2 separate regions of the Homo sapiens genome follow, and region 1 is linked to region 2. Evidence: fine-mapped expression QTL. A gene starts in region 2. The other region holds a variant in brackets. All regions are shown on one strand. Distances are between the middles of the regions.

Evidence for each region. PIP is the estimated chance that this variant, and not a neighbour inherited with it, causes the effect.
Region 1: its variant is the best candidate, but not a certain one, in a credible set for the expression of CSNK1D in whole blood (INTERVAL, PIP 0.58).

Annotation. Positions count from the first base shown.
Region 1 is chr17:82,304,292-82,308,671 of GRCh38, reverse strand. No RefSeq gene overlaps it. Among named protein-coding and RNA genes, the nearest start is that of CD7, 11 kb to the left of the region's middle. The variant T/AT (reference allele first, on the strand shown) is at 2,024.
Region 2 is chr17:82,271,806-82,276,185 of GRCh38, reverse strand. CSNK1D (casein kinase 1 delta) reads left to right here and starts at 2,486. Exons shown (of 9, transcript NM_001893.6): 1 at 2,486-2,880. The coding sequence starts at 2,805. It overlaps LOC124904089 (a long non-coding RNA gene), which reads right to left and starts at 2,408. Exons shown (of 2, transcript XR_007065953.1): 1 at 1,113-2,408. RefSeq lists silencers at 2,347-2,556, 2,797-2,986, 3,037-3,086.

The DNA.
Region 1 (4,380 bases), 32 kb before region 2:
GAAAAAATATGCTTCAGTGTGGAAAGAAAAGAAGTTTGTACCTGGAATGTCGCCTCTAACTAAATTATCATAAAATTTAAGTATATAATAAAGATATTCTCAGGCATATAAGGGTTTTTGTTTTGTTTTGTTTGAGACAGAGTCTCACTCTGTCACCCAGGCTGGAGTGCAGTGGTGCAATCTTGGCTCACTGCAACCTCCACCTCCTGGAGTCAAGTTTTTCTCCCGCCTCAGCCTCCTGGGTAGCTGGGATGACAGGCGTGTGCTACCGCGCCAGGCTAATTTTTGTATTTTTATTTTTAGTAGAGACAGGGTTTCACCATGTTGGCCAGGATAGCCTCAAACTCCTGACCTCAAGTGATCCGTCTGCCTCCCACAGTGCTGGGATTACAGGCGTGAGCCACCGCGCCTAGCTGCATATAAGGTCTTAAGACACATCCGAGAAGTTAACTTTGAAACCCCTCTTGGAGGCAGGATCCAAGTAAGAAGAAACCGAAACAAGAAGATCCTTACAAGAGAAATAAGAAGCAATCAGATAGTTTATTTTGTCCAAAAAAGAAAAAGCAATGACAAAAAAAAAAAGCGCAGAATCTACAATGTATGTTCAATCTACATAACAATCTAGAACTAAAATTCTAGATAATACCAATGTCATGGAGAGAGGGAGGCGGAGACTGACGGACGTGGCAACATGTGGAGACATTTCTCCTGTCAGAAACAAGATGTAGATGAAGATGAGGTTTAGAAATCAAGCTGGGTGGCCGGGCGCCATGGCTCACACCTGTAATCCCAGCGCTTTGGGAGGCCAAGGCAGGCAGATCACTTGAGGTCAGGAGTTTGAGACCAGCCTGACCAACATGGTGAAACCCCGTCTCTAAGAAAAAATACAAAAATTAGCCCAGCGTGGTGGCAGGTGCCTGTAATCCCAGCTACTCGAGAGGCTGAGGTGGGAGAATCACTTGAACCCAGGAGGTGGAGGTTACAGTGAACCAAGATCGTGCCATTGCACTCCAGCCTGGGCGACAGAGTGAGACCCTGTCTCTAAACAAATAAATAAATAAATAAATGTAAAGATTCAACAATATGTTGTCTACAGAAGATACCTATTTTTTTCTTTTCTTTCTTTCTTTTTTTTTTTTGGAGATGGAGTCTCGCTCTGTCACCCAGGCTGGAGTGCAGTGGCGCAATCTCAGCTCGCTGCAAGCTCCGCCTCCCGGGCTCACGCCATTCTCCTGCCTCAGCCTCCCGAGTAGCTGGGACTACAGGCGCCCGCCACCACGCCCGGCTAATTTTTTGTATTTTTAGTAGAGACGAGGTTTCACTGTGTTAGCCAGGATGGTCTCTATCTCCTGACCTCGTGATCCACCTGCCTCGGCCTCCCAAAGTGCTGGGATTACAGGCATGAGCCACCGCGCCCGGCTTCTTTTCTTTTCTTTTCTTTTCTTTCTTTCTTTCTCCTTTTTTTTTTGAGACAAGGTCCCACTCTGTCACCCAGGCTGATGTGCAGTGGCTCGATCACAGCTCTGTGCAGCCTCCACCTCTCAGGCTTACGCAATCCTCCTCCCTTAGCCTCTTGAGTAGCTGAGACTACAGGTGTGCACCACCACACCCAGTTAATTATTCTGAATTATTTGTAGAGACGGGTCTCACTGTGTTGCCCAGGCTGATCTCAAACTCCTGGCCTCAAGTGACCCTCCCATCTCAGCCTCCCAAAGTGCAATGATTACAAACATGAGCCACCACACCTGTAAACACACTTTAAACAAAAGGACACCAATAGGTTGGAAATAAAAGGATAGAAAACTTATGAGGCAGATAGGAACCAGAAGAAAACAAAAGTCATCAATCTTATGTTCTGACAAAATGGAACAATAGAATAAGATATAACCAGTATGAACACAGGTGAAACTAAAAATAAAGACAAAACATGCAAACCAGGAATGATATAGCCACAGAGAAAACCAGATACATCACCCATTTAAGCCCAAGCTTTTAATGTGCTCCTTCAGATCTAAGTCATGAA[T/AT]TAGTTAACATGGACCTCTACGCTTGTGAAACAGAAAACAGACACTAGCATCAGTGTACATGAAACCTTGTTTAAATGCTCATTTACTGTCATCAGGAACTAAGCAAGAAAATGAGAACGAGGCCGGGCGCGGTGGCTCACGCCTGTCATCTCAGCACTTTGGGAGGCCGGGGTGAGTGGATCACTTGAGCCCAGGAGCTCCAGACCAGCCTGGGCAACATGGCGAAACCCAGTCTCTACAAAAAATACAAAAATTAACTGGGCGTGGTGACGAGTGCCTGTAATCCCAGCTACTCGGGAGGCTGAGGCAGGGGGATATCTTGAGCCCAGGGTTTGAAGTTGCAGTGAGCCGAGATTGTGCCACTGCACTCCAGCCTGGGTGACAGAGCAAGGCCCTGTCTCAAAAAAAAAAAGAAGAAAAAGAGAATAAAAATTCTTAATTCCTCCACACCCAAAGATAACCATACTTGACCACACAGACAGGCAGGAAGCTGCCTCTGGGGGCTCACACACGGTGTGGTAACGGAAGCCCGCATGCAGGGCAGCGCAGAGGGTCGGGGGGAGCAGTCACTCAGCAGAGTGGATCACTTGTATTTTTGCTGCTTCGTCTTGCTGCCTGCTCTCTGGCCGCCTCTTCAGGTGGCCACAGTGTCGTGACATCATTTGTTTCCCTCCAGAGGCTCTGAGGGAGAACGGGCTCCAGGCCTCTCCCAGCTCCTGGGGCTGCCGGCGGCCCTGGCGTTCCCGGCTTGTGCCTGCGCCGCTCCAGTCTCTGCCTCCATCGTCACGTGGCCTTCTCCCAGGCCTGTGGTTTCTCTCTTCACATCAGGACACCAGCCGCGTGGGATTCAGGGCCATCCAGTAACCTCAACTGGATGACATCTGCCAAGACCCTGTCTCCAAATAAGGCCCTGTTCAGAGGTTCCAGGCGGACACGGATTTCAGGGGACACCATTCAATCCAGGGCAACATCCCTCTCTCAGACAGCTGGAAACAACATCCTCAGTCTCGGAGCAACTGCACAGCCATCAACATACCCCACTAAGCTAAGCCCAGCTAAACACCCCAGCTCAGTGTCCCTCAGCTGGGCCCCAGAACTGCTCCGGGCACCTGATGCCAGAGGAGACGGCAGTCTGGACCAACTGCTGTCAAAACAGCTTGAGCAAATTGTATACAACCCCAGCCGGGTGAGGACATTGCCAGGCCCCCTCCAGGGCCTTAAGAGGGCTGAGGTCTGTGGTCAGGTGCTTCAGGGTGAACAGGCCTCAGCGAGGTCCAGCCAGACAGGCTGCCTCGCGGAGCCGGTGGTGTGTGCGCAGCATCAAAGGCCCTGAAGGTGGGGTTGTTAGTTCTGTGTTGCAGGAGGGAGGGCGCCAGCACGGATCCCATGTCAGAGATCCCATCTGCCGCAGCTTCTCCAAGGGTCGACCGGGAACTCAGGGGCAGGACTGAGACCACCCCCGAGCCCCATGGCAGGAATTTCCAGCCCCCAGCCTTCCACATGTCCCGTTTTCCCTAGAGCCAGTGCTGGGCCTCCCCAGGCACGAGGATGCCCAGTTGAGTGGCAATGGGAGCTCCGGGCCTGAGTAACATCCTCAAAACCAAATGCCAGGTTAGGAGCAAAGCTGGAGCCAGGAGTAGGTTCTTGTTCCTCAGAATAAGTGACTTTTACACTCAGTCAACTTTTTCTTTTTCTTTTTCTTTTCTTTTTTTTTTTTTTTTGAGACAGGGTCTCTTTCTGTTGCCTGGGCTGGAGCGCAGTGGCGCGATCACAGCTCACTGCAGCCTCCACCTCCTGGGCTCAAGTGATCCTCCTGCCTCAGCCAATGCTGTTGGGAAAATGGCCTCAGAAGACAGGACAGGGAATCACTGTGGCCTGGGCAGCTGGAGTGGGGCCCGGGAGCTGGCGTTGGACATGGGGAAGAGAGGAAGGGAGGAGGGAGAGGGAAGGAGATAAGGGGGCAAGGAGCGGAGGGGTGGGGAGCAGGGGGAGGGGAGGGGATGGATGGGGCCGGGCCACCTCCAGGCTCGCAGAGTCAGCAGGGAGAACATGAGTCGGCTCCCACCAGGGTGGGTCGGCCAGAACCCAGCAGCCTGGAGGCGGGGAGCCTGGGGCTCTTGGTGCTCAGAGGCCAGAGGGCCTCAGAGGGCAGCTGGAAGAAGGGCGGGAGCCTTGTAGAGGGGCCCTAGCCTCCCCGTGACAGGGCCAGGTCGCATCTGCTCCTCTCTCCTCCCTTCCTCGCCTCCCCTCCACTCCCCTCCCCTTCTCTCGCCCGACAAGCCCCTCTCCCCCAGGGCTCCTTCTCCTTCCCACCCCCAGCCCCAGGGGCCCCCTCAGCCCCTCCACTTGCTGGAGT
Region 2 (4,380 bases):
AGATCACGCCACTGCACTCCAGCCTGGGCAACAGAGCGAGACCCTGTGTCAAAATAAATAAATAAATAAATAAATAAATAATGAAAAGAGGTTTACTTGGCTCCTGGTTCTGCAGGCTTTACAGGAGGCATGGTGCTGGCCTCTGCTCAGCTTCTGGGGAGGCCTCCGGAAGCTTCCAATCATGGTGAAAGGCAATGGGGGAGCGGGCACGTCACATGGCCAGAGCAGGAGCGAGCGAGCGAGTGAGCGAGAGAGAGAGGTGCCCCACACTTTTTAAATAACCAGATCTCAGGAGAACTCACTATCTCAAGGACAGCACCAAGGGGATGGTACTAAACATTCCTGAGAAATCCACCCCCATGACCCAGCCACCTCCAGCCTTGGGGTTTACAATTCAACATGAGGTTTAGTGTGGACAAATATACAAATTACCTCATGATTCTTCATAAATTTCCCAGCCTCAGGTGTTTCTTGATAGCAACAGTAAAGGAGCTAAGACACTGTGGCGTTCAGTTGTATCAGGACAGACCTGGGTGTGGGCTGGCCCTCATACGTCCTGCCGGGAGCTCTGGGGGCTTTCCAGTCTGCAGGTCGGGACGTCCTTCTACTCTGAGATGTTCTAGTATCATCAAACCGCCCCACAGACCATGCCTGGAGACTCTGCCTCACACATCCGTTCCCAGCGGTCACCAGCCCCGCATCCCTCCCTCGTCACCGCATCTGTGCGTCTCCTCTGTGACGGAGGCTGTTCCTTGGCAATGACTATCCTCAGCTTCAGCCCCCTGCTGACAGTTTTCTAGCTCAGAACCTGGCCATGTCTGCACCCTCCCTGTCTTCTCGGAAGGGGTGCTGTCATTCCCTGGGCTACACACCTGCTTTGTCCTCCTCTCTCTGACCCCAGGGCTCCAGGGTACCACTGTCCTCTTCCTTTGTCAGTTTGTTGTGGCTGGGGCTGGTGGTGGGGGAGCCACAGCAATCAGCCTGCCTCACCTTGCCCAGCCCGCATGTTCCCAGGGCTCCTGCCATCCCCACTACACCACAGCCCAGTCCGTGTGCACGGGTTATAGAGTCAAGACACAAACACACAAAAGCCAGGCAGACGGGCACAGTACCTGCCGCAGCTGCATGAAGCTTGGGGCACTATGGGTGAGAAGAGCTAGAAATGTTGGGGCCATCAGAGCCCAGGAGGACCAGCCGAGGGAGGAGCAGCTGACAGGTGGGCAGGTGCCCCTAGTCAGGGACAGCAGGACTCCCCAGGAAGAAGGATCACAGCCACCCGTGGGAGAGCTGGACTCTGTTCATCAACAGAAAAGCCGTGAGCGATTCCGCCAACAAGGTCAGTTTTACTAGTCTGGCAGCCCCCCACCCCCGGCTTCTGTAACTCAGAAACTGGGCAGTTCCGACTGCCCATCCCTCATTAGTGACTGATGGTGGTCTGGCCGGCGGCATCTCCTGTCTCCAGGCCCTGCTATGTAATTTCGGGAATGGACGCCCGTCTCCCCGACCTGACCTCCAGCTGTTTGGAGCTGAGGGGTGGAGAGGAAAGACTGGGGGGTGGAGAAAGGCGAGCACCACTGTGGGGCCTGTGGGGGCTGCTTTCCTCTTCTGCAGTGACCTGGACGGGCTGAGGCTGCTGTCTCACTCACACGGCGGTGCCCACACCACAGCCCTGGTATGCTAATGCGTCAAAACACACCTTCACCTGTTTCACATTCTTGAGTTTCAGCGAGGATGCGACAGGTCTCGAGACACATGGACGTGGGACCATGGGGACGGGTTCTTCAAGGTCCCCATGCACCTGCAGCCTGGGGGGGCTTGTCTGAAGGGCTTTCTTCCCAGTGATGGGAATCAAAGGCCCCGATCTTTGAAGCTGGCCATCAGCCTGAACGTCCACTCCTTGTTTCCTTTGCAAGGAGGAACATTCAGATCCAACACAGATAAGAATGTTGACTCCGTCTCCAGGCCGCAGGGACTGGAGGGAGGCAGGTGGTCTGGCCTCATTTTGTGAAAGGTGGTGGCTTTGTCCTCAATCTTCAGGCTGGACATCAGGACCTCCCAGGGCGCGGGCCTGCTCTGTCTCTGGCCTTAGGTGTCAGGAGGTAAGGCCGCAGACGCTGACGTACTGGGATGCCCCAAGCCCGGGAACTGGCAGCCCAGTGAGGGGGTCTCACCTGTGTCCCCTGAGCCTGGCCTGTCACTCTGTCCACGCCTCAGCTACCTGTCCCCTCCTGCAAAGGGCACCGCCTGTCGCGAGGAACTCACCTGGCTTCCTCGACATCTCGGGGGACACACGAAAAGCCCCCGCGAGAGCAGCAGGAGCCTGCACGTGGAAGGGGCTGGCGGCCCGAGGTCCCGGGGTAACAGGAGGGCAGAGGGGCTGGGCACGGCGCAGGGTCGGGAGGAGGCCTGGAGCGCTCGCCCCGCCCGGCCCCGCCCCTGGAGCGCCGCGGCCCCGCCCCGCCGGGTTGCTAGGGGAAGTGACGTCACAGCGCGATGGCGGCGGCTCCTTTAGGCAGCTGAAAGGGGATTTAGGCCCGGAAGATCCGAGTCCATCCGCGGCGGGGAGAGGGCAAGCGGGACCGGTAGGGGCCGGAGCAGCGGCGGCGGCGCTCGGACTGTCCCATCCGCCCCGTATTGAGGCGCTGGGAGCGGCGGGGCGACAGGAAAGCGATGGTGAAAGCGGGGCCGTGAGGGGGGCGGAGCCGGGAGCCGGACCCGCAGTAGCGGCAGCAGCGGCGCCGCCTCCCAGAGTTCAGACCCAGGAAGCGGCCGGGAGGGCAGGAGCGAATCGGGCCGCCGCCGCCATGGAGCTGAGAGTCGGGAACAGGTACCGGCTGGGCCGGAAGATCGGCAGCGGCTCCTTCGGAGACATCTATCTCGGTGAGGCCCCGCCGCCCCCGCCCGCCGCCCGAAGACCCGGGCCCTGCGGCTGCCAAGACCAAGCGCGATCGCGGAAGGAAGTGGTGGCCCCCGCGGGGTCTCCGCGCAAGTCCCGGCACCGCCGGATCGTGGCCAGAACCCAACGGCCACTAGGCTAGCGCGGCCAGGGGTGGGGAGGGCAGTGGGGAGCGGACGTGGGGGAGGGGCAGGACCAGGTCGGGGGAGCAGGGTCTGGAGAGGGGAGGGTTGGGGAAGGAGGGGATAGGGGAGCTGACCCGGGGTGGGGCATGGTCTCTGGGGAGCCGACCTGGGTAGGGGCAGGGTCGTGGGGAGCGGACTCGGGAAGGGCTGGGTGGGGCGTGGGGAGGCGGGCCTGGGGGAGGGGCAGGGCGGGGGTGGGGGCAGCGGGCCGTGGGAGGGGAGGGGGTAGGGCTGGGGCCGCGAAGCGGGCGTCGGCTTCCTCTACGCCTAAGGTCACCGCAGTAAACAAAGGCCACGCTCTTTCTTCCGCAGCCCGGTCCGGGGCTGTCTGGCTGCCCCCTCAGAGGCTGCCCCGGTGTCTTGCATTCGTGGGGGAAAATGTCAGAAAGACCCAAATGCCGTGTGGAGCGGGGGAGTGGCCCGGCTAGGAGTGGGGCTTGCCCTCCCGCTGGGGGTTCTCTCTGAACGGTTCCCCTTGGCCTTGGAGCGGTGACTGAGTGCAAATGAGCAAGGGTTAAGTTTAGGTGAATGTAGAGAAAGTCACACAGGATTAAGATGCTGGCAAGATGAGAGGCAGATGAGGTAGTTGTACTCATGAGGTGTCCTTTAGACTGTAACAGTCTCAAGGTAGATTTCAAAAACAATGGGATTAGAAGGTTTTGGGTTGTGTCATATTTACAATGGAAAAATATGCACGTGAACACAAGTGTGATGAAAGGTTGGCTTAAATCTTCAAGTTTGTAATTTTTTTTTTTTTCCTGAGACGGAGTTTCGCTCTTGTTGCCCAGGTTGGAGTGCAATGGCGTGATCTCGGCTCACCGCAACCTCTGCCTCCCAGGTTCAAGCGATTCTCCTGCCTCAGCCTCCCGAAAAGCTGGGATCACAGGCGTGCGCCACCACGCCTGGCTAATTTCGTATTTTTAGTAGAGACGGGGTTTCTTCATGTTGGTCAAGGCTGGTCTCGAACTCCGGACCTCAAGTGATCCGCCCAGTTCGGCCTCCCGAAGTGCTGGGAAGCCACCGCGCCTGGCCCAAGTTTGTAATTTTAAAGTAACTTAATTTTCCGCACTTGTTAGTGGGATTGTGCAATGCACGAGTTATTCCAAGATCCCCTGAATTTGAGGATATGTAGCCTGAGGCGGTGTGCCTGCAGAGGGGCTGCTGCAGACCTTTGAGGGGAGCTGTTTTCTGTTCCAGCAGCCCTAGCTTTGGGGTGTGTTTTAACTGGGGCACCTGTCAGCTAGGGTCAGGAATCCCCTGGGATGTCAGTAATGCCTCTGGTCATACCTTTTAGATGAA